Homo sapiens: one gene and its partners. The protein of the gene in region 1 interacts with the protein of each later gene in a pairwise test. Each region holds a gene or a part of one and is shown in the gene's direction. Other genes may lie near its edges. The genes, in order: SULT2B1, ACYP2 and FLACC1.

Region 1 (7,467 bases):
AAATGGAATTAATTAAATGAAAATTTAATTTCATTTAAATTAATTAAAATGAAATAATTTTTTATTTTTTAAAAATTTTTAAAATGAAATAAAATTAATTCATTTTAATTAATTTAAATTAATTTTAATTTTTTTAAATTAAATTTATTTAAATTAATTAAAATGAAATAAAATGGAAAATTTTCACTTTCTCAGTCACATTGCACATAGGTGCTAAATAGCCACCTATGGCCAGTGGCTTCTGGGATGGACAGCACAGATGTAAGCCATTTACTTACATGTCTTGTTTGTGGACACAATATCAGAGACTGACCCAGAGGAGGTCTCTACAGATATTAGTTGGAAAAATAGACTATTGGATGCCTGGATGAATGGATGAGTGGATGCATGGATGGATGGATGGATGGATGGATGGATGGACGGATGGTCGAATGGATGGGTAGATGGTTGGATGGATGGATGAATGGATGGAGGATGCATAGAAAGATGGATGCATAGATGGCTGGTTGAATGGATACCTGGCTGAGTGGATGAATAGAGGATGGATGGATGGATAGAAGGATGGTTGAGTAGATGCTTGGATGGATGAATGGATAGACAGTGATGAATGGATGGCAGGATGGATGGATGAATGGATAGATGAAGGAATGGTTGGGTGATGGATGAATAAATGGCTGAATGAATGCAGGATGGATGGATAGATGGATGGTTGGATGGTTGGGTGGCTAGATGAATGGATGGAAAATGGATGGATGGGTGATGGATGGCTGGATAGATGGATGGTTGAGTAGATGGTTGGATGGATGAATGGATGGATAGATGATGAATGGATGAAGAGGTGGATGGTTTGATGGCTGATGAATGGATGGAGGGATGGATGGTTGGATGGGTAGATAGATGGATGTTGAATGGATGATTGGATAAGTGGTTGGGTGGCTGAATGAATGGTTGGGTGGATGGTCGGGTGGATGGATGATGGATGAATAGAGGGACAGGTGGATGCATAGATAGAGGGATGAACAGCTGGAGGGATGAATGGATGTATAATCCTTGCTCCTCTCACTACCCATGACCAAGTGGCTCTGGGTTTTCCACTTGCATTTTCCCACACTCTTCATCTTTTTTTTTTTTTTTTTTTAATTGAGACCGAGTCTTGCTCTGTTGCCCAGGCTGGAGCACAGTGGCACAATCTCGGCTCACTGCAATCTCCACCTCCTGGGTTCAAGCAATTCTCTGCCTCAGCCTCCTGAGGAGCTGGGATTATAGGCACCCACCACCACTCCCGGCTAATTTTTGTATTTTTAGTAGAGACGGGGTTTTACTATGTTGGCCAGGCTGGTCTTGAACTCCCGACCTCGTGATCCACCCGCCTGGGCCTCCCAAAGTGCTGGGATTACAGGCATGAGCCACCAAGCCCAGCCCACTCCTTCATCCTTCTGGTCTCGTCCTTGTCTCCCAGATGTCCAAGACCCTCAGATTCATTTCTGGGGGTTGATGGTCTCCACTAGTATCTCTGCACTCTCACAATTGGCTAAAATGTCACTCTGGTGTCTTCTGGTTCCTCCTTGCCACCTCTGTAGGAGTCTGGACCCCTCGCCTTCCAGAATCAGGCTTTTGCATCTCCTCAGCTCCCTCCTCATTCTCCACAGAGATTCAGTGGACTTCTCCTGGCACCACCATGACCTTCACTCATTCCATCACGTCTTCCTGTGACAATTCATTCATTCCATCAACAGGCACTTATTGAGCATTTACTATATTCCAGGCTCTTCCCTTGGGAAATAACCGCAGATTTGACATAGAACAAGCCCTTCTTTCATGGGGTTGACAGTCTAGTGGGGAGATAGATGGTAAACAAGACAAAGAAGCAAAACATTTAGGAGGTCAGATGGTGACGAGTGCTATGGGAAAAAGTAAAACAGGAAAGAGGAATGGAGAAGTTGGTGGACGAGCCTGGGGGAGGTGACACTGGGCAGAGTCAGACGATAGGAGCCCACGAAGCTCCCAGGTATCAGGAACATGCGGGAATAGCAAGGGCAAAGGCCCTGCAGTAGGAGCCTCCCCTGGGTCTTAGGCCGCCTAGTTTGGCCAGTTTCTTTCCATTGCCCACTCAGGCACAACCTCAGGCCCTACTGCTCCCCAACCTTCCTGTGCCCCGGGGATGCCTCCGCACCTGCCTGCGAGTTTCCCTCTCAGGATCCCTAAGGACCTGGGCATTCCCTTCCCCAGACTCTCCCTAACCCCCCACCCCAGCAGCACACAGAGCCAGGGACAAAGGGTCATTGAATAGAAAACAAAGGTGAAGACAGCCCAGCCGGAGGCCTGGTGGGGTGTCATGGTTCAGTCCCCCACCTCCGACATCAGAGGGGTTCACTCAGCCTCAGAGGGGGATGCCTGGCCCTCTCACCCTTCCACCCACCCTGCAAGAGAGCCTTTTTATCAGCAGGAACATCAAGGCTTAACACTGAAAGTATCAAGGCAGAATGTTGAGGATGTGGACTCGGTAGTGGCTGGGGGCAGGGGCGGGTGCTCCCACAGCTCAGCCTCCTGGAGACGGGTCTTGGGGTGGTGAATTGAGAGATGGGATACCCCAGAACCCTCCTTTTCTGCTTACCATCAGAGTGAAGGCGGGCAGTGCTGTGTGCCCTGGGGGAAGCCACATTACCTCTCTGGGCCCCCTTCCTGCATCTGTTAGGTGAGTCTGACGTCTTCCATCCCCCTCACCTATGCAACAATAATTGGTCAGTATATACAATTTTATTTGTTTTGGCTTTTTTTTTTTTTCTTTTTGAGATGGAGTTTCACTCTTGTTGCCCAGGCTGGAGTGCAACAGTACAATCTTGGCTCGCTGCAACCTCTGCCTCCAGGGTTCAAGTGATTCTCCTGCCTCAGCCTCCCGAATAGCTGGGATTACAGGCACCTGCCACCATGCCCAGCTAATTTTTTGTATTTTTAGTAGAGATGGGGTTTCACTATGTTGGCCAGGCTGGTCTTGAACTCCTGACCTCAGGCGATTCACCCGCCTCGGCCTCCCAAAGTGCTGGAATTACAGGCGTGAGCCATTGCACAGGCTTTCTTTTGGCATTTTTTTTTTTTTTTTGAGATGGAGTCTCTCTCTGTCGCCCAGGCTGCAGTGCAGTGATGTGATCTCAGCTCACTCCAACCTCCACCTCCCAGGTTCAAGCGATTCTCGTGTCTCAGCCTCCCAAGTAGCTGGGATTACAGGCACCTGCCACCACTGGTGGGGAGACTGGCTTCATGACTCCAGGACTCTGAGGGGTCAGGGACCAACAGCTGGGGAGGGCCAGGGTTTGGGGTGGGGGCAGAAGAGAAGAGAACACCGTCTATGCTGAGCTCACTGTGTACCAGATCCTCCACCAGCAGCTGAGAGTGTCTCCCTCAGTCCTCACAACAGCCCGATGGGTGCCATTCACAGATGGGGAAACTAAGGCAAGATGAGCCTATGAGCAAGATGGTTCCCGGCCCCACAGCTGGGAGGCACTGGAGCTGGGATTTGAACCAGGGCTGTGACCTTCAGACTCTCACGCCCAACCATATCTGGCAGTTGTCTCTCATATCTGTGTCTCTCCCTGTCCCTGACCTTTCTATGTATCTCTGTCTCTGCCCTCTGTATATCGCTGCTGGGTCTCTCAGGGTCTCTGACCCCTGTGTGTCTCTGTCTCCTCTGGGTGTCCGTGTGTCTCTGTCTCCGCCCTCCGTGTATCTCTGTTGCGTCTCTCAAGGTCTCTGGCCCCTGTGCATCTCAGTCCCCTCCTGGTCTCTGTCTCCCATGCCCTCTGCCCTCTCCCTTTCTCCCTGGCTCCCGCCCTGTCTGTGCTGCCGTGGTCCTGGCTGTGCCTCTGTCCCTGTGTCTGTTTCCAGGGTGCCCCTTACGCGTCAGCCCGTGAGGGCAAGTTTCTGTCTGCCCCTTCCCCAGCGGTGGCCTAGTGCTTGGAACAGCGCCTGGCAGACAGGAGATGCTCAGTAAATATTTCTCAAATGAATAAAGGAATGAATGAGTGAATGAATGAATGAATGAATGAACTCGCTGAGATGGGCGAGATCAGCGCCATTTCCCAAATGAGCAACGTGGGCTCCAGGTGGGTGCCCACAGGCCCAGAACTGCCAGCCCGGAAGGTTCTGGCGTGGGCTTGGCACTGACCCCCTGGACTCTGCCCCCAGCTGAGCACCAGACGCCAGGACGTGCCCATCACTGCTCCTCCCCGCCCTCAGAGCAGGGTGGCTCCCTCTGGCCTCTCCCCGCTGTTGGAGGCGTGGGTAGCAGCTGGGAGAACCGGCTGGGTGCTGCCCCTCCCCTTGGGCCGGGCACGGAGTAGGCACCTGGCGGGCTCCCCAGGTGGCAGACGCTGTCGCTGCGCACACCTGGCCTCTGTGCCGCCTGCTCCCTGCTCGTCCTCCCCTCCCCACCCTCACCCACCTGCCATGGACGGGCCCGCCGAGCCCCAGATCCCGGGCTTGTGGGACACCTATGAAGATGACATCTCGGAAATCAGGTGAGGCCCAGACCTGGGCAGGAGCCAGGAGATCCCAGGGAGGAGGTGGCTGTTTGGGGGAGCCGGGGACTGTGGCAAGGGTGGCCTCCAGCCACCCGCAGCCGCAGGCCTGGCCCAGACTTAGCTGGAGGGGCTGGGCTGGGCTGGGGCATCCAGTGTGGTGTATAGGTCCCTCCTGAGAAGGGAGTGAGGACCCGACCGTGTTGAGTCACCAGTGGGGATGCCTGGGGTGTCCCTGTCGCTCTCCGGGCCTCAGTTTTTCTGTCTGTCAAAGGGGCCCACAAGCCCTGTGTCTCCCTGATAGAGCAGTGGAAGAGAGCAGGCAGCTTGGTGCATAGTAGTTGCTCAGGAAACACAACAGCCTGTAGTACCCAGGACACCCCATGCAAGCCCTGAAATAACGGGGGTGCTTGGGGGTGAAATGGGAGAGACTGGGATGCTGCTGAGACCCCCAGAGGGAGAAGCTGTGTTCTAGGGCACTTGGGGCGGAGAGGGCAGGCTCTGGACTCTTCAGGTCTCCTAACAGTGGTTAGGGCAGAGCACTGCCCACTTCCATGAGCTCAGCGTGACTCCCTCTTCCTGGGGATGAGTCAGACACTTTGACAGTACCTGCTTTCCAGATGGGGAAACTGAGGCTGGGAGGGAACGCGACATGACCGCAATTACGCAGCTAGAAGCAAATCTGAACCCGGTCTGTCTCACGCCAGAGCCTGTGGTTTCTCCTGCTCCTCACAGCCTTGGTGATGTCCCCTTTACACCCCTCCCCGTGGCTCCATCTTTTAGGGGAGCGCAGAGGCCCAGAGAGGGCAGGCAGCCTGCCCCAGATCACACAGCAAACTGCTGAGACAATCTCCAACCCCTCGTATCTTGCACTCTTGCCAAGTGAGACCTTCCTGGCAGCCTGGGCCCCTCCAGCCACCGTGGGCTGTGAGGAGGGAGACAACCAAGACCTGTTCTCAGCCCAGTTGCCTCATTCCTTTCTTATTTTATTTTATTTTTTTGAAATGGAGTTTCGCTCTTGTTGCCCAGGCTGGAGTGCAATGGCACGATATCAGCTCACTGCAGCCTCCGCGTCCTGGGTTCAAGTGATTCTCCAGCCTCAGCTTCCCAAGTAACTGGGATTACAGGAGCCCGCCACCATGCCCGGCTAATTTTATTTTTGTATTTTTAGTAGAGAAAGGGTTTCACCATGTCGGCCAGGCTGTTCTTGAACTCCTTGCCTCAGGTGATCCACCTGCCTCGGCCTCCCAAAGTGCTGGGATTACAGGCGTGGGCCACCACGCCTGGCCGCCTCATTTCATTCCACTGTTTCAGGCCCTCCCCTCCCCTCCCTCAGCCAGAAGCTGGGGCATGAAGAGGCCTTCCTGGGTGCCTGGGACTCCAGAGACAGGAGCAGTTCAATCCTGATTGCTGTGTGACCTAGACAAGCTTCCTGATGTCTCTGGGCCTCCTGGGCTGAGAGCTGTGACCAGGCTGGCCCAGTTCTGCGTGAGGGAGGCCCCAGCATTCTTTACTCAACATTGTCTAATCCAGGACTTCTGAGTTCTGCAATTCTTCTCTCCAGAGATAAACAGATAAGCCAGCTCGCCTCCAGGGTTCCCGCCTCTGGGAAGGCCTCACCCCCACCCCAGCCAGGCACCTGGGAGCCTTTTTTTTATCTCCGCGACGGCTCTGCCAGCTGGTCATAAAACGCCCTGAGTGACCTCGCTAAGTGGGTGACCTTGGTTTAGTCACTGACCCTCTGCGAAGCTCGGTTTCGTCATCGTGGGGGAGAATAGCCCTCCCCTGCAAGACTCCTCCAGCCCTGATGGCTGCAGAGCCCTGGGGGGGTGCCCTTAGGACCTCAAACTTCCAGGCACTTCTGGAATCCCCCAGGCCTGGAAGCGTGCCTCTCCCCAGCGAGCCTGCTGGAGCATCCCCCTGGGGCCCACTTCCTTCGGGATGTGCCCCTCCCAGACCCCCTCAGATACGCCACGTACCCCCCCAGATTCGCACCTCCTCCCAGGTTGCCCATCTCAGGGATGTCCCCTCCCCATCACTGGCTCAGATCCACAGGGCTTCTCCTGGCCCCGACTTCCCCCTCTGCTCGCCCCCAGCCTGTCAGTCCCCAACCCCCACCCCTGTCCCCTGACTCTCTGCCCTGGTTCTTCCTCTCGGTTGCCACAGCCCCAGCTCAGGCCTCCTCATCTCCCCCCAACCTCACCACTCCAGCCTTGGCTGTCCCAGGCTGCTCCTCCCCTCCTCCCAGCCATCCAGTGAATTCCTCAGCGCCCAGCCCTCACCCACCCCGCCCCCCCAGCCTCCTCACCTGCATTCCAGCTACTCTACTGCTTTTTTTTTTTTTTTTTTTTTTTTTTTGAGACTGAATCTGGCTCTGTCACCCAGGCTGGAGCACAGTGGAACGATCTCGGCTCACTGCAACCTCCGCCTCCCAGGTTCAGGTGTATTACCTCATCTAATCCTCACAGCCATCTGAGATGAACCCACTTTGACTGCTGTCATCCTGTGTCAGAGATGAGGCCCAGAGAGGTTGAGTAACTTGCCTAGGGTCACACAGCTGCCAAGCAGGGCACGGCCAGGATTTGAACCAGGGAAGCCTGACTGTTATCATGCCCTGGACAGGGAATTTAGGGATGATGAGCAAGACCAGGAAGGAGCGAGATCCAGGAGGTAGACTCAGCCCAGATGGGAGGTGAAGCGGGCGCTCTGAGGTTCTAGCCTCCGAGTAGCTGGGATGACAGGCGCGTGCCACTGCGCCCAGTTAATATTATTACTATTATTTTTTTGAGACGGAGTCTCACTCTGTCGCCCACGCTGGAGTGCAGTGGCACGATCTCGGCTCACTACAACCTCGGCCTCCCAGGTTCAAGCGATTCTCCTGCCTCAGCCTCCCAAGTAGCTGGGATTACAGGCACCCGCCACCATGCCTGGCTAATTTTTATATTTTTAGTTG
Region 2 (7,706 bases), on another chromosome or scaffold:
AGCAGAGCAAAGAGAGGTGGTTGAGTTCAGAGCAATCTGTGACTTCTATCACTGGTAGGGCAGAGATATGAGCCTCCATAACTAGATATGATGGGAGGGAGGGATGTGGTCCTGTGGTCAGTTTAAAATGGATCCCACCCAGATGGCCTTCTTGCTGGGGGCTAGTCTCTTTCAGCAGAAAGAGGTTGGAGGTGTAGCATTTAATACAGAAGCTGGGATGGGGCACTTAATACAGAAGCTGGGATACGGCTGTAGAGAGAACTGGCATAGCCTAACAAGGGAGCAGCAGTCAAGAATTCCAAGTGGGGTGAAGCTCTGAGTCCCTACAAAAAGAATCCTGCAAAATAAGTAGTCAGCTTTGAATATTCACCATTCCCAGAGAGCCTAAATGGATTTCAAAAGTACTTGTTTGTTCCCATTTTCAGCTAGGTAGGGGGAAACTAAGGCAAGGGCGGGGGGGACCAACCATGCCCTCTCCTCACTTCAGCATACTCAGTACCAAGCTGGGAGAGGGAAGACACTTTAATGTTACATATCCTTCTGACTTTTTAATATTAAATTGGACTGTGACAAAGAAAAATTGGTTCAAACCTGGGACAGAATCTCCTTCTGGAAAGAAATCTGCTTTGCTGATAGAACGCTTAAGCAATTTTCTGATAACTTGTAATAAGATTAAAGCCTCTTCTGGGAAACCAGCTACTTGCTCAGCTGACCAACAGTCTGCTGTCTAATAATTTTGAATCCAGTTTAGTAATAATTAAGCATTTATTTTACCTATAAAGTATTCCTTCCACAGGGAATCATTGAATGGAAGTTAACAATTTGTATCATGTTGGGTCCTGCACTTTCAACATAATGATTACAAAAATATTTCAGGGATAGAAATATGCCGATGGATAAAGTAATTTTGCTTGTCCTTAAAATCAATCATATCTTAATATCAAATTTCTGAGAAATAACTCTAGCAATCACTTTCAAATGACCCCATGTGGTGATGAATTTGAGAGTTACAGGCGGTACCTCCTCACTTCAAATGTCATTTGGACACAGAGTACTATCTATCCTTATTTCACAGGTTCTGTGTATTATCTATCCTTATTAGATATACACATATAGAGATGTGTATTATCTATCATATGTATTATTGTCATATATAGATAATACACACATGTAAATGTGTATTATCTATGCTTATTTTACAGATTCTGGTGCCTGGTCATCTTTTACAGTCATATTATATAAGCAGGATTTTCCCTTTCTATGTATTACCTTAAACATGATCCTAGATCACAAACCAATTGTCTTAAAGGGTTCAAAGAAGGGAATTAACAGGTTTTAATTTCAACCAGTAGTAACACAAAGCCTAGTTATTCCAAAGCTGTTGCTCAGGTTACAAAACCAAAGCTTCATATAATTTAATCATGCATTGTACGTGAAGGACCTGCATACATTTGTTTGTATAAAAAGCCAAATAATCATATACAGTCTTGGTAGTAATATATTTAAATTGGCACAGCCCTTCGAAAAACAGTTTGGCAATATATATCAAGAACAATACATGCTTATACCCTTGATTTGATATTCCAACTTCAATTAAAAATATGTGGGAAGGAAGCTACATGCATAAATATTTTCTTTTTTATGGTAGTGAAAAATGAGAAGCAGCCTGAATATGTAACAACAGGGACTCACAGTAGGTAAATGTGTGGTTTATCCACCTAATGTGATTTATTAAAATATTCATTGGAAAGACTACAACATGGAAAAGAAGAATAAAAGTTGCATTCATACTATAATTACTTAAAACATATATTAGAAACATTTGCGTACATTTTCTAAAGACTTAGAATCACATATTATTGGCAATCCATGCCGAAATGGTACATAAAAATTTCCGTTTGCTAATGTTAGACTGCTGGCAGACACAGCAAATTTTTCAGCTAAGCAAATGTCAATTGTTGCTATAGCACTTCTAAAATTCAAATAAACCTACCTAATAATTGGCAGGGGTACTCTTGGGTAAATGTGGAGAAAAGTCAAAGATTAAGAAAAGGAAAATGTCAACCTTCCCAGTCAGTGACTACTTAGAAGCTATGCTATAGTTGTCCGTTGTTATCTGCAGGGGATTGGTTCCAGGAATCCCCTTGGATATAAAAATCCTGGAATGTTCAAGTTCCTAATAGAAACATACATACACATATTGTCCTGTATGTTTTAAGTCATCTCTAGATTATTTAAAATACCTAATGCGATGTAAATGCTATTATACTGTATTGTTCAGGGAATGATGACAAGAAACAAGAGTCTGCATGAGTTCAGTAGAGATGACTTTTTTTTTTTTTTTTGGAGACAGGGTCTCGCTCTGTCACCCAGGCTGGAGTGCAGTGGCCCCATCTCGGTTCACTGCAACCTCTGCCTCCTGGGCAAAAGTGATCCTACTCCCACCTCAGCCTCCCAAGTAGCTGGGACTACAGGCACAGGCCACCACAGCCAGGTAATTTTTGTATTTTTTATAGAGGCGGGGCTTCACTGTATTGTCCAGGCTGGTCATCTCTAACTCCTGGGCTCAAGCTGTTCGCCAGCCTTGGCCTCCCAACATGTTGGGATTACAGGTGTGAGCCACCGTGCAGGCCAAGATACTTAAAAAAAAAAATTCTGTTTGAGGTTGGTTGAATCTATGGATGCAGAACCTGCTAATATGGATGGCTGACTGTACTAGTGGGGAAGGCACACTAAATAACTAGGATAAAATCTGGTAACCACTCGCAGAGATGACTGAGCGGGATAGAGGAAGATTTTGGAGAAGGGGGAGGCATTCCAGATAGAGTAGACCCAAGAGAAGAGGTTCTTTGTTTTAAACCTCTGTACTGAGAGAGCAGAATAACCGAGAGTGTCTTGACTATAGTTTAAATGCAGGATTTGCATAAGCAGGTAGTGGAGGCTGAAGACCTTAGGTTCTATTTTGAACGTATTAAGAAGAATGATTTAAAATTTATGTTGATTCTAGAGTCTGCATGGAATGAACTGGGAGATGGAAGAGTTAAGTTACGAGGTCTCTGCAATAAACTAAGACCTTCACTACATAAATTAACTGCACTAGCATTTCCAGAATATATTTTACTTTAAAAATGATTTAACCATATTCTAACCAAGTTTTGGATGATTTTTGGTGTTCTCTAATAGAATTGGCACAGTATATTGAATCAGATTGCAGTGGATTATTTTAACTGTGTGGCCAGATGCAGAGAAATATGCCAAGGTATTGAGGCCAACAAATAGAGAAATGCAAATTCTCACAAGTAAACAGATTTGGAATTCTAGAAGGTGGCAGATTATCAATAGCTGTATCCAGATCCTTTGGAGTGGTGGATGGTTTTATATTAAAACTTGGTAATAGCTCACCAGGAAATAAAATTCAGCCTTAACCTTCTAGGCAATTGGGATGTTGCTGAGAATAATCAAGACAATCAAAAAAAAAAAAAAAAAAAAAGGTCGGGTGTGGTGGCTCACACCTGTAATCCCAGCACTTTGGGAGGCCGAGGCAGGTGGATCACCTGAGGTCAGGAGTTTGAGACTAGCCTGGACAACATGGTGAAACCCCGTCTCCACTAAAAATACAAAAATTAGCTGGGTGAGGTGGCGCATGCCTGTAATCCCAGCTACTTGGAAGGCTGAGGCAGGACAATTTCTTGAACCTGGGAGGTGGAGGCTGCTGTGAGCTGAGATTGCACTACTGCACTCCAGTCTGGGAGACAAGAGCGAAACTCCGTCTCAAAACAACAGCAACAAACCCACACCAAAAAAACTGTATGAACAGCAGACAAGATGACTACAGTGTTTTTCTTTTGTCTGTTTCCACTAGCATAAAAGACTTCATATTTTTAAAAAGTTTCTTATCCCAGAAAATATCACAATCCGTTTAGAATACGAGTTCAGGCTCAATTCCTTCCTGACTGTACAGAAGAGCTCAAGATGTTGCAGACCTTATCTTAAAAGCTGGCTTGGTAGTCACCTAAACATTTCATAAATAATTTACTAACTCTCAAAACACTAAACACGCAGGCCCTTGATTTCAAAAGCCAATCTTGCTGGGATGGAGTGGGGTGGGGGACCTGGGATGGGGGATGAAAGGGGTTGGAAATGGGGAGATATTGGTCAAAGGGTACAAAGTTTCAGTTAGTGTGAATAATAAGTTCTGAAGATCTGTTGTCTAACATGGTGACTGCGATAAATGTATTGTGTCCTTAAAAATTGATGAGAGTAGATCTTAAATGTTCTCTTCATTAAAAAATGGTGCAATGGATACGTTAATTTCATTGATGTAATCATTTCACAATGCATACATATGTCAAAACATCACCTTGTACACCACAAATATACCCAACTTTTATTTGTCAATTACACTTTAATAAAGCTGGGGGAAGCCACTCTTTTTTTGGGCACAGCATCCGGCTTTTATTTACTAACTTTGAGAACAGAGTACCTTGATCAATTAAATGGTAGGGAGCGCTGTGGAGACAGCATCCTCCCCAGTCCGGGAAGAGAGGCCTAGGATGCCTGGGGCCCAGCGGCCTCTTCCCTCCTGGCGTCCCCGGCTGCCCTCGCTCCCAGGCCCCGCAGTCTCATTTGCCGCTTCCGACGCGTGACCCCGGCGCGCTAGCGTCCGGGACCGGTGACAGGCGCGGGGTGCGCCAAGCAGTCCCATGTGTCCCCTCCCTCTCGCAGCCGCCGCAGTCGCTGCGCCCCGAGCCCCTCTCCGGCTCCTCAACAGAGGGCTCGCCGCCGCCATGTCTACCGCCCAGTCACTCAAATCCGTGGACTACGAGGTGTTCGGAAGAGTGCAGGGTAGGAGGCCCCTCTACGGTGGGAGATCAAAAAGGTTATGGGAGGAAGGGGAGAAAGCTGTGAGAAGCGCCTCCCACCTAAAGTATGCCTTTTCCCGTTGTGGCTGGGACTTCCGCTCCGCCATGACACAGCAGCGGCGGCGGGGAGGGAGGCGAAACGCGCATGCGCCCGAGGACTTGGACGGGCGGAAGTACGGGAATGGGGAGGGAAGTGGGGGAGCGGGAGAGGAGGGGTCAGGGGACTGCTGAGGACCAGAAGTGGGCGGCTGCTGGGTGCGGGAGTAAGCGGCACGGGGGAATGTTGAAGTTGGGTAGGAAAAGAAGAGGGTCTTTTAACTAGTGGTCTCGTTGCTTGCCACTGAAGCTACCTGGGCTTGACTTGAGTTTTAGGAAGGACACTTAGATGGTTTAAGGTTAATTTTTCAGAGGTCAAACCTTTTTTTAGACCTCTTTGTAGCTCTTAAAAGAATGAAATTGTTATCTAATTTTTGTTTCATCCTAAGTTTAAGTAGTTGCCAAGTTTGTAATGTCTGGCTTGTTGAAAATATTGATATTTATAAATGAAAATATTAAGTCACTCTGAGATTTATGCAATGGAATATAAATAGGGTAGTGATTTAACATCCACCATCTTCATTTAAAATAAAACTCTTCAACAATGGGAAATTTTACTCATTTCTTTTCCTCTTTGAATTTGATTTTCATTTCACTTTTCCCACCGAATTACCCCATTGTTTTGCTTGAGGGTTTTTTTTTTTTTTTTGCTCACCCTATCATACTTTTCTGCAATATGTATATGTACATATATGCACATGTATGAATAAGTGTAATGCTTTTTCTTAATTTCCTTTGACAATAAGGCTCTCTTAGAAACAAATGCTGGTTCTTTGGTGCCAAAAAGAAGAACTAGCGCTCAAAGAATTTTCTCAGCAAGGCAATTTTACCTCTATAGAAGGGTGCGACTCGCGGATGAAGCAATGGCAACGGCACACCTGAACAGGGGAGGGGAAGGGGTTCTTATTCCTGATGCAGGTAGCCTCTACTGCTGTGTCTTTCCCCTACTGGCTAGGGTTGGACCGCACAGTCTAAGCTAATTCCGACTGGCTATTTTAAAGAGCAGGCGTACGAGCTCAAGTGGCGGGGTGAATAATTTGGCAGGAAGGGTGGTTACAGAACAGGTGACTCAGGATGATTCAGGTCAGAGCAGGTGACCAGGGGTGACTCAGGATGGAGCAGGTGACCAGAGGAATAGAGGTGAACTACTGATTAGAACTGGTGGAAAAGGTTGTTTACTGAAACTAGAGGCGAGGAGAACGAGGAAGCTAGACTTTAGAGCGCAAAGAACCGAGCATACTGACATACTGATTCTTTGAAGAGAAATTTAGAACTCATTGTATTCAACAGCTCCAAGTATTAAATTTTTTGTCTGGATGGAGTTATTATTGAAATTATTATTAGAACACTAGATGAAAATATAAAAAGTATGATAAACATTATTAAAATTTAAAGGTAAATTTGTGTTAGAAGTTTATTTTTTTAATTTTATTTTTTTAAGAGATGGAGTCTTGCTCTGTCACCCAGACTGGAGCAAGTGCAATGGCACAATCATAGCTCACTGCAGCCTGGAACTCCTGGGCTCAAGTGATCTTCTGCCTCAGCCTTCTAAGCAGCTGGGACTACAGGCTCATGCCACCATGCATGACTAATTTTTAAAATTTTTTTGTAGAGAAAGGGTCTCTGTTGCCCAGGCAAGTCTCGAAATCCTGGCTTCAAGGGATCCTCCTGCACTTCGCCTCCCAAAGTGATGGGATTACAGGCGTGAGCCACTGCACTCAGCCAGAAATTTATTAATGAGAAGACTGGGGGTGTTTATGGAACCTCGGTTGGTGGAAGAGTTGAATTATCCTTGTATTTGGTACTCTAGAGGTTTTTACACTTTGGTGCAGTGTACCAGGGTAAGATTAAGAATGGGTAAAAGTGTGCCTTTTGTAAAGAGATCTTTTTTTAATTTAATTTTATTTTTATTTCCTATAGGTCTTTGGAGAACAGGTGGTGTTTGATTACATGAATAAGTTCATTACTGGTGATTTCTGAGATTTTGGTGCATCCATCACCCAAGCAGTTTACACTGTACCCAATGTGTAGCCTTTTGTCCCTCACCCCGTCCTACCCTTTCCCCCCTGACTCCCCAGAATCCATTGTATCATTCTTTTATGCCTTTGCATCCTTATAGCTTAGCTCCCACTTAGAAGTGAGAACATAGAATGTTTAGTTTTCCATTCATGAGTTACTTCACTTAGGATAACAGGAGACCTTTCTTTCAAAGGATGATTGTGCAAAGGGAGGTAGGAAAGGAGTCTCAGGTCAGTTTTAGGAAGGAATATATGTGGAAGTTGAAGATCTGGAAATTGATTCCCTGAACATTATGCATGGATCTGTACTCTTTAGAAAGTCTTTGAGTGAACCCAGCGGTATGTTATCCTGCTTTGAAAACTGCCACAATAAGTCACCAAAACACGTAATGTAAAATACGAAAGTGGTGGCAAAGATCACCTGACAGAATGGTCCACTAGAGACAAATGGCAGTAGTGAAGGAGTCTGTGTGTGTGTGTGAATGTGTGACATTTATTATGGGTGTTCTTTGTGCTGAGCATTTCACTGTTGTTTACTTAATCATCACAATTTTGTGAGATGCATGTCTTATTCCTGTTTTAACAAGGACAAAACAGGTGCACAGAGATTCAGTAACTTGGACAAGCCCTTAGTTGACAAATGGGATTTGATTCTACATCTCTCTGACTTTAAAAGTTGTGCTTTCCCATTATAAGATGTTATCTGCTATTACATTATATATTTCTATTA
Region 3 (7,297 bases), on another chromosome or scaffold:
AATGTTCTTCAGCCACCATATGTAGCTCTTGCAAATACCATTCCTGTATGCGAATACCTGTGGAATTGCAAATTAAGGCATTAAAAGAAGCAAAAAATGGGTGCTCAGCACCACTGGAAAATATATTTCATTATGCACAAATCTTGCATTCATGCTATCTGAGAGGTTTTGACAGGTTACCTTTCCTCTTACCTTACTGCTGCTGCCCCAGTCTTTCCTGCACTCCAAAGCAGTGTCTGTGTCTGATCTCAGCAGCAGCATCACCCACAAACCTTTACAGTATTTGGGCACAGTCATCTTTTGTTTTGAAGGTAAAGGGTAAAAGATGTGGTGAAGCATTCCCTGAGACCTGAATGTGGTTAATGATGAGAGTGAATCTTTAGGGTTATGGTTCCTGCTGTTTCAGAGCTGAGCTCCAGATCAAGGGCCCGTGTGTTTTTGTTTTTGTTTTTGTTTTCTTCCTCTTCTGAGATGGAGTCTTGCTCTATCATCCAGGCTTGAATGCAGTGGCACGATCTTGGCTCACTGCAACCTCCGCCTCCTGGGTTTGTACAATTCTTCCACCTCAACCTCCCGAGTAGCTGGGACTACAAGCATGCACCACCACACCCAGCTAATTTTTTTATTTTTAGTAGAGACGGGGTTTCACCATGTTGACCAGGCTGTTCTTAAACTCCTGACCTCAGTTGATCCACCCACCTTGGCCTCTCAAAGTGCTGGAATTACAGGCATGAGCCACTGCACCCAGCCCGGGCCCACGTATTCTTGAACAAATGTAGGTTTCTGTGTGTGCCTGTCCTATGCAGAGCCCTCTAAAGCCCAGGGCTCAGAACAGTGGCCCCTCTTTCTAGGTGCAAGGGTAGCACTACAGGCTTTCACGGGATTCCTGTGGCTACCTGGTCGGGTCTATTCAGGATGATCCATGGGAGTTAGCATAGCACCACTCTAAAGTCAGATGTTGAAAGCCAAAGATCAAAGAGAGTTGAGCAAGTGAGCAAGTTGGAGATAATTACAAGCTTCTTAAGAGAACACTGTCTTTTCCACACTGGGAGTGTTCTCATAGAGCCACAAATAGCGCTCCACAGATGGAAAGCCTCCGAATGCTCCCAGCTGACCATGTTTGCCACTTCGTGAATGCTGCAGCATCACACAAGAGGATATCTATTTCCCCAAGCCCTGTGCAGACCAATTTTGATAATATTGCTGTCAGAATTAAGTTGCAGTTTCTCTCATTCATTTTTCAACTTATACTTTGTTTTACTATTGGTGGCCTCCTCCACCTCTGTTCCAAATAGTAAGACACTTTGCTTTAGGCGAAGTTACTGAGAATGCCAGCACTTCCCCAATTTCATCCAAGAGAAGAGCACTTAACACTTAGCCCCTAAACACCTTCATTTCCTTCTCCTCAGCTGTTTTGGAACTGGCGAAGCTTTACTCATGTCCAAAAAGATGAAAGGAGAATGGGGATACCCAAGTAGTAGTAATTAGTGCTGAGCCTTTGCCAAGTCGAGTGGCTGGGGTATTCCTTCAGCACTTACTTCCTCTGTATCTCTGTTTTTAGCCATGCTTCACTCAAGACCCAAATCCTGCTGCTTTTTTTTTTTAATCATAAGAAAGGATTTAAATATAAAATTTTACACATTAAACACACTCAAAGTAAATATTCAATCTCTGGATGGAGACAGATTGTCTAGATGACTAATAGAGTCTATCAATTCTTCTCTAAGTTATTTCCCTCCTTTTAATCTTTGAAAGTCTCTCTTCATCTAGCCTGTTCATGGTGCTCAGAGTTGAAGCAGCCATAGTGCAACCAAGACGCTTCCCTCCATCAACACACCGAGGCTGGCATAACAGAGAGATGGAAAGAGCCCAGTTCTCCAAGGACATTGCTGAATCTTTGCACCAACTCTGATAGCACTGCCTCCAGACTCTATTTCATGAGGTTAATAAACCTCTTTGATGTAAGCCACTTGCAATCAAGCAACAGGTCTATGCATTTTAACTACACATGGCCCACACTGAGAAATCTTGTCGTAAATACTGGTGTCCTCAGAGCTCTGTTCTAGACCCTCTTCTCTCCTTACACAATACTCTCTCTATATGTGATCTCACTCGCTCCCTTGGCTTGGAATAGTATCCACTCTGAAGACTCCTAAATCTGCTTCTAGGCCAGAATCTTCCTCTGAACTTCTAAAATATGTAAGAAACTCTAACAGACGTCACCACTTGTCTATTAGTCTCCCTGCACCTCAACATATCCAAAACTGAACTAATAATCTGCTCCCTAGAACCTGTTTATCCCTCCACACTTTCCTATCTCAATAAATGGCACCACGGTCAACTCAATTGCTCGAGCTGGAAAGCCAGGAATCATCACCTTCTCCTTTTCGCTCATCCCAGCATCCAGTCAATCACCAAGTTCTATCATGTCTTCTCTCCATCCCCACTGCTGCTCCTCAGTCAGGGCCATCGTCAGGTCCCATGACGACCACTGCCACAGACTTTTACCTGGTTTTCCTGGCCCTTCCAATTGCTTCCCTATATTGCAGTCAGAATGATCTTTCTGATATGTAGATCTAGTCAGATCTCTTCTCTGTTTAACACTGCTGCCTGACTCACTGGACTAGAAGAGTAACTCCTGCTATGAACTCCCACTGCTTCTGGCAAGTCTCAATATGAGTCATTGTGGCTGCATGGTGACTTACACCTGTAATCCCAGCACTTTGGGAGGCCGAAGCAGGAGGATCACTTGAATTCAGGAGTACAAGACCAGCCTGGACAACATAGCAAGGCCTCATGTATACTAAAAGTCAAAAAAATTAGCTGGGCGGCCGGGCGCAGTGGCTCACGCCTGTAATCCCAGCACTTTGGGAGGCCGAGGCGGGCGGATCACGAGGTCAGGAGATCGAGACCATCCCGGCTAAAACGGTGAAACCCCGTCTCTACTAAAAATACAAAAAAATTAGCCGGGCGTAGTGGCGGGCGCCTGTAGTCCCAGCTACTTGGGAGGCTGAGGCAGGAGAATGGCGTGAACCCGGGAGGCGGAGCTTGCAGTGAGCCGAGATCCCGCCACTGCACTCCAGCCTGGGTGACAGAGCGAGACTCCGTCTCAAAAAAAAAAAAAAAAAAAAAAATTAGCTGGGCATGGTGCTGTGCACCTGTGTAGTCCCATCTACTTGGGAGTCTGAGGCAGAAGGATCGCTTGAGTCCAGGAGGTCAAGGCTGCAGTGAGCTATGCATGCAGCCTGCACTGCCACTGCCACTGCACCGCAGCCTGGGTAACAGAGTGAGCTACTGTCTCAAAGGAAAAAAAAATTAATTATGCTTTTATTGAGCTTTTTTATTGTCTGTTTTCTCATTGGTCTCTAAGTTGTATTGAGTATAAGAACTGAGGTATATCCCCACACCTAGCAATAGTGCCTGGCACACAGTAGACAACAAATGTGAAGTTGAGTGAATAGATGAATTTATAACAATATTTTGTAAGCTAGGGGTTGTGACCCACCAGGATCATGAAATCAATCTAGTGGATTATAATCAGCTTTAATTTAAAGAAGAAAAAGAAATAGAAGAGAATAGCAAATAATAAGAGTATTATTTCATGAAATTTTTTTATTACAAAATTTGTAAAATGTATTTCTTATAATGAGTGGCAGTAAAACTAAAATGAAAGCCACTGGGTTGTAATAAGCAAGTACTTTTTTCTATAGTAAGAAAAAGCAGCTTTATTTAAAAAAAAAAATCGGAAAACCTTGTGACTGCAAAAGATTCCTGCCTTGGGGGATTTTTACTTTCACAGATTTCAAAGCCTTAAACTCGAGGGAAAAAAGTGTCTAGAGTTTTAGGTTTCTGTGAGTAGATCACAGAGGAATTAAAAATCCATCACAGATCCTGCCTGGTAACTATTGCCATAGACCAATGAAGCCTAAAAGTGCTGTTGAATTCTATTTCCTCTGAAGATATATCTTAAACTTTTTTGTCCCATGACTGATGACGAAAGTGGAAATCCAGTGTTAAAAGTATGAATTCTTTGCTGTTGAGGGTGGTCACTGATTTGTGTCTTGGAGAATTTAATTGGCTGTTTCTCCCAACCTTCTCTCTTGAAGAAAAGAGCCCTGAGCCAATGAGGAGCTACTGTTCTGTGTCCATAGCAACAAAATAAACAAACTTTGGCCTGCCATCTCCCAAGGGCAAACCTCACAACTCAGGCCCAAGTCACAGGAATCTGAATGGTGGGGTGACCTTCTCCTCTAGTTTAATTTCATTGCAATACTGAGAAACTTCAACTGTTTTGTCTTTAGAAGGGAAATTCATGTTTGTGCCAGGCCAGCCTTTGTAAAAGCCTTTGATTGGATTCACTAGAAGTCTGTCTTCCCGCAGTACATATACTGTGAATTTTCTCCTTCGGCATTTCAACCACTTGGAATGGCCACTAAAGTGGCTTTTGATCTAAAGTAAACTCTGATTCTGTGTTGATGGGGAACCATTTCTCTCTAACATGGTGGTTTCTTTAAGATGTTTGACTTGGGCCACATGAGAATAACAGATCTTTGGGCAGTCCAAGGTAAGCTCTTTGGAAAAGATGTTTTATATTATTTTTTCTACTGATTATTAATACTAACCAGTAACTTCTCTGAAGCCTCTGCCGGCTCACTGGTGACTATTGTTAGGGCAAGCCTCAGGTAAAATCATCAGGTAGAAGTGCAGGAAAGGGAAAAAAGGGGGAGAAAAAATCCTTACACACACTCACACACCCCTCTATAATTAGAGCTATATGATGTCAAGCCACTGTAAATGCAGATCTATCTGTGATGACATGGAAATATCAACTAGATATCCTGTTACACAAAAAGAACAAGATGCAACATTGTGTGCAAAGTATGCTCTCACTTATGCAAATAATTTAAAAAATCTATTATGCTTCTCTACAGGTTAAGTTCTATATGCAAAACATTTAAGGTTATATGCACTCACAACATTTCTGGAAGGATGCCCCAAAAATCTGTTAGAAGTAGTTCCCACTTAAGAAGCTATGAGAAGTCAAGGGCTGATTTTAGCTACTGAAATATTAAAATACTGCCATATAGGCAGGGCACGGTAGCTCACACCTGTAATCCCAGCACTTTGGGAGGCTGAGATGGGTGGATCACCTGAAGTCAGGAGTTTGAGACCAGCCTGGCCAATATGGTGAAACCCCATCGTTATAAAAATACAAAAATTAGCCAGGCATGGTGGCGGGTGCCTGTAATTCCAGCTACTGGGGAAGCTGAGGCAGGAGAATCGCTTGAACCTCGGAGGTAGAGGTTGCAGTGAGCCAAGACCACACCATTGCACTCCAGCCTAGGCAACAAGAGCAAAACTCCGTCTCAAAACAATAATAATAATAAATAAAATACTGTCATATTGATTGGTAGATGACCATTGTCCAAGCCCCTTGCATGTCCTCCTTGCCACCTTGGTTGTCCCAACTCCTCCCCTGGCACCCCCAGACCACCTCATGATTCAGCAACTAAGGGGTTAATGCCTGGCATGGAGGTGGGAGTGAGATCTCCCAGGACCCTGTTCCAACCCTGGTTGATTATTCAATAGCCTTGTCTTACTGGTTGTTAAATATTTTGAGTATCACTCCCATGGGTGTTCAAAGAAAAAGGCCTTTATTTTTATTTTATTTATTTATTTATTTTTTAGAGACAGGGTCTTGTGCTGTCACCCAGGCTGAAATGCAGTGGTGTGGTCCTAGCTCACTGCAACTTCAAACTCCTGGCCTCAAGTGATCCTCCCGCACCACCTGCCAAGTGGCTGGGACTACAGGCACACTCCACCATACTAGGCTATTTTTAAAATTTTTTGTAGATACAGAGTCTCGATATGTTTCCCAGGCTGGTCTCAAACTCCTAGCCTCAAGCGACTCTCCCACCTCAGTCTCTCAAAGTGTTGGGATTACAGACATGTGCCACCACACCTGTGAGGCCTTCTTTTTTTTTTTTCTTAAGAGCAAAAGAATATATACCAAGACATTGTTTATCATGGGAAAGAGGAAAAGGAAACAACTACACATTCATCAAAGATCATTGAAAATCTATGTAAAACTCCACTGAGTGATTGTATCACCCATACAATTTACCTCTGCTTTCTGGCTTTTGAATGCAAATGTTTAATGTTATTTATAATATGGTAATGACGATTACAACATTTTGGCAGTTTCATCTGTGAATCTCTTTTCTCTTTGTTTTTGTTTTTTGTTTTATTCATTTATTTATTGAGACAGAGTCTTGTTCTGTCATCCAGGCTGGAGTGCAGTGGTGAGATCTCGGCTCACTGCAACCTCCACCTCCCAGGTTCAAGTGATTCTCCTGCCTTAGCCTCCCGAGTAGCTGGGATTACAGGCATGTGCCACCATGCCTGGCTAATTTTTGTGTTTTTAGTAGAGACGGGGTTTCGCCCTGTTGGCTAGGCTGGTCTCGAACTCCTGGCGTCAAGTGATCCTCTCGCCTTGGCCTCCCAAAGTGCTGGAATTACAGGCATCAGCCACCATACCATCTTTTTCTCTTTGTTGAGCTAGCCCCAACCACCATGATGAGCTGATTACAACCACTAAGTTTACTAGTCAGGTAAGAAATATTCATCAAATGCCCGTTGTGGACAAGCCACTTTGCAAGGCTTAGTGGAGGTGTTGAGGCACAGAGAGCACTCCATAGTGGAGTCCTGGCCTTCAAGAAGAGAGAAGGCAGTTGCTAGAAGTGGGCCTGCCTTAGCCTCTCACTTCTTGCCCCATGGACTCCTGCTAAATCTCCCAAGTTCAGGGTTGGCTCCTTTCGTACAGGAAGCAGATACAAGGTTCTAAGCAGAAGCAGTTTCTTTTTTGCTACTGTTGTAGCCTTCTTTCAGACTCTCACCTGAATTCCAGCCCCTTGTAGCATCATCTTCCCACCTGGGCACTCGATCCCATCTGCTTCTCTGACCTCATCTCCTTGACTTGGCCCTAACAGGCCCCCAAACCCAGTGGAGTATGGACAGTTATAAATGGCGGCCCTGTCACCTGCTCTTCAGGCCTTTGCTGTTTAGCCAGTCTCCTGGACTCCTTTCTAGCCCTGGACTCCTTTCTAGCCCTGACCTCTATTGCAGAAGACTCCCTAGTCCCAGGCCTCTGGCCCAGCCAACCCCTGCACACGCTGCCTTTCTTCCAAGGCCAGGTCTCTTGCCTTTGCTCCACTGCTCACTTAGCTCTCTTTCTGCCGACTCCTCTGCTGACTGCAAGCTCCCTGAGGGCAAGGTCCAACCAGCATCTAGCACAGGA

The links.
Region 2: the proteins of SULT2B1 (region 1) and ACYP2 interact in binary tests that used the Homo sapiens proteins (3 or more experiments, as listed by UniProt).
Region 3: the proteins of SULT2B1 (region 1) and FLACC1 interact in binary tests that used the Homo sapiens proteins (3 or more experiments, as listed by UniProt).

What each region holds. Positions count from the first base shown.
Region 1 is NC_000019.10:48,547,810-48,555,276, forward strand, and holds the start of SULT2B1 (sulfotransferase 2B1), read left to right. Parts: upstream 1-4,362; 5' UTR 4,363-4,443; coding exon 4,444-4,514; intron 4,515-7,467. UniProt on the Homo sapiens protein: Sulfotransferase that utilizes 3'-phospho-5'-adenylyl sulfate (PAPS) as sulfonate donor to catalyze the sulfate conjugation. Responsible for the sulfation of cholesterol.
Region 2 is NC_000002.12:54,110,912-54,118,617, forward strand, and holds the start of ACYP2 (acylphosphatase-2), read left to right. Parts: upstream 1-4,703; 5' UTR 4,704-4,787; coding exon 4,788-4,845; intron 4,846-7,706. UniProt on the Homo sapiens protein: Its physiological role is not yet clear.
Region 3 is NC_000002.12:201,354,249-201,361,545, reverse strand, and holds the start of FLACC1 (flagellum-associated coiled-coil domain-containing protein 1), read left to right. Parts: upstream 1-4,200; 5' UTR 4,201-4,564; intron 4,565-7,297.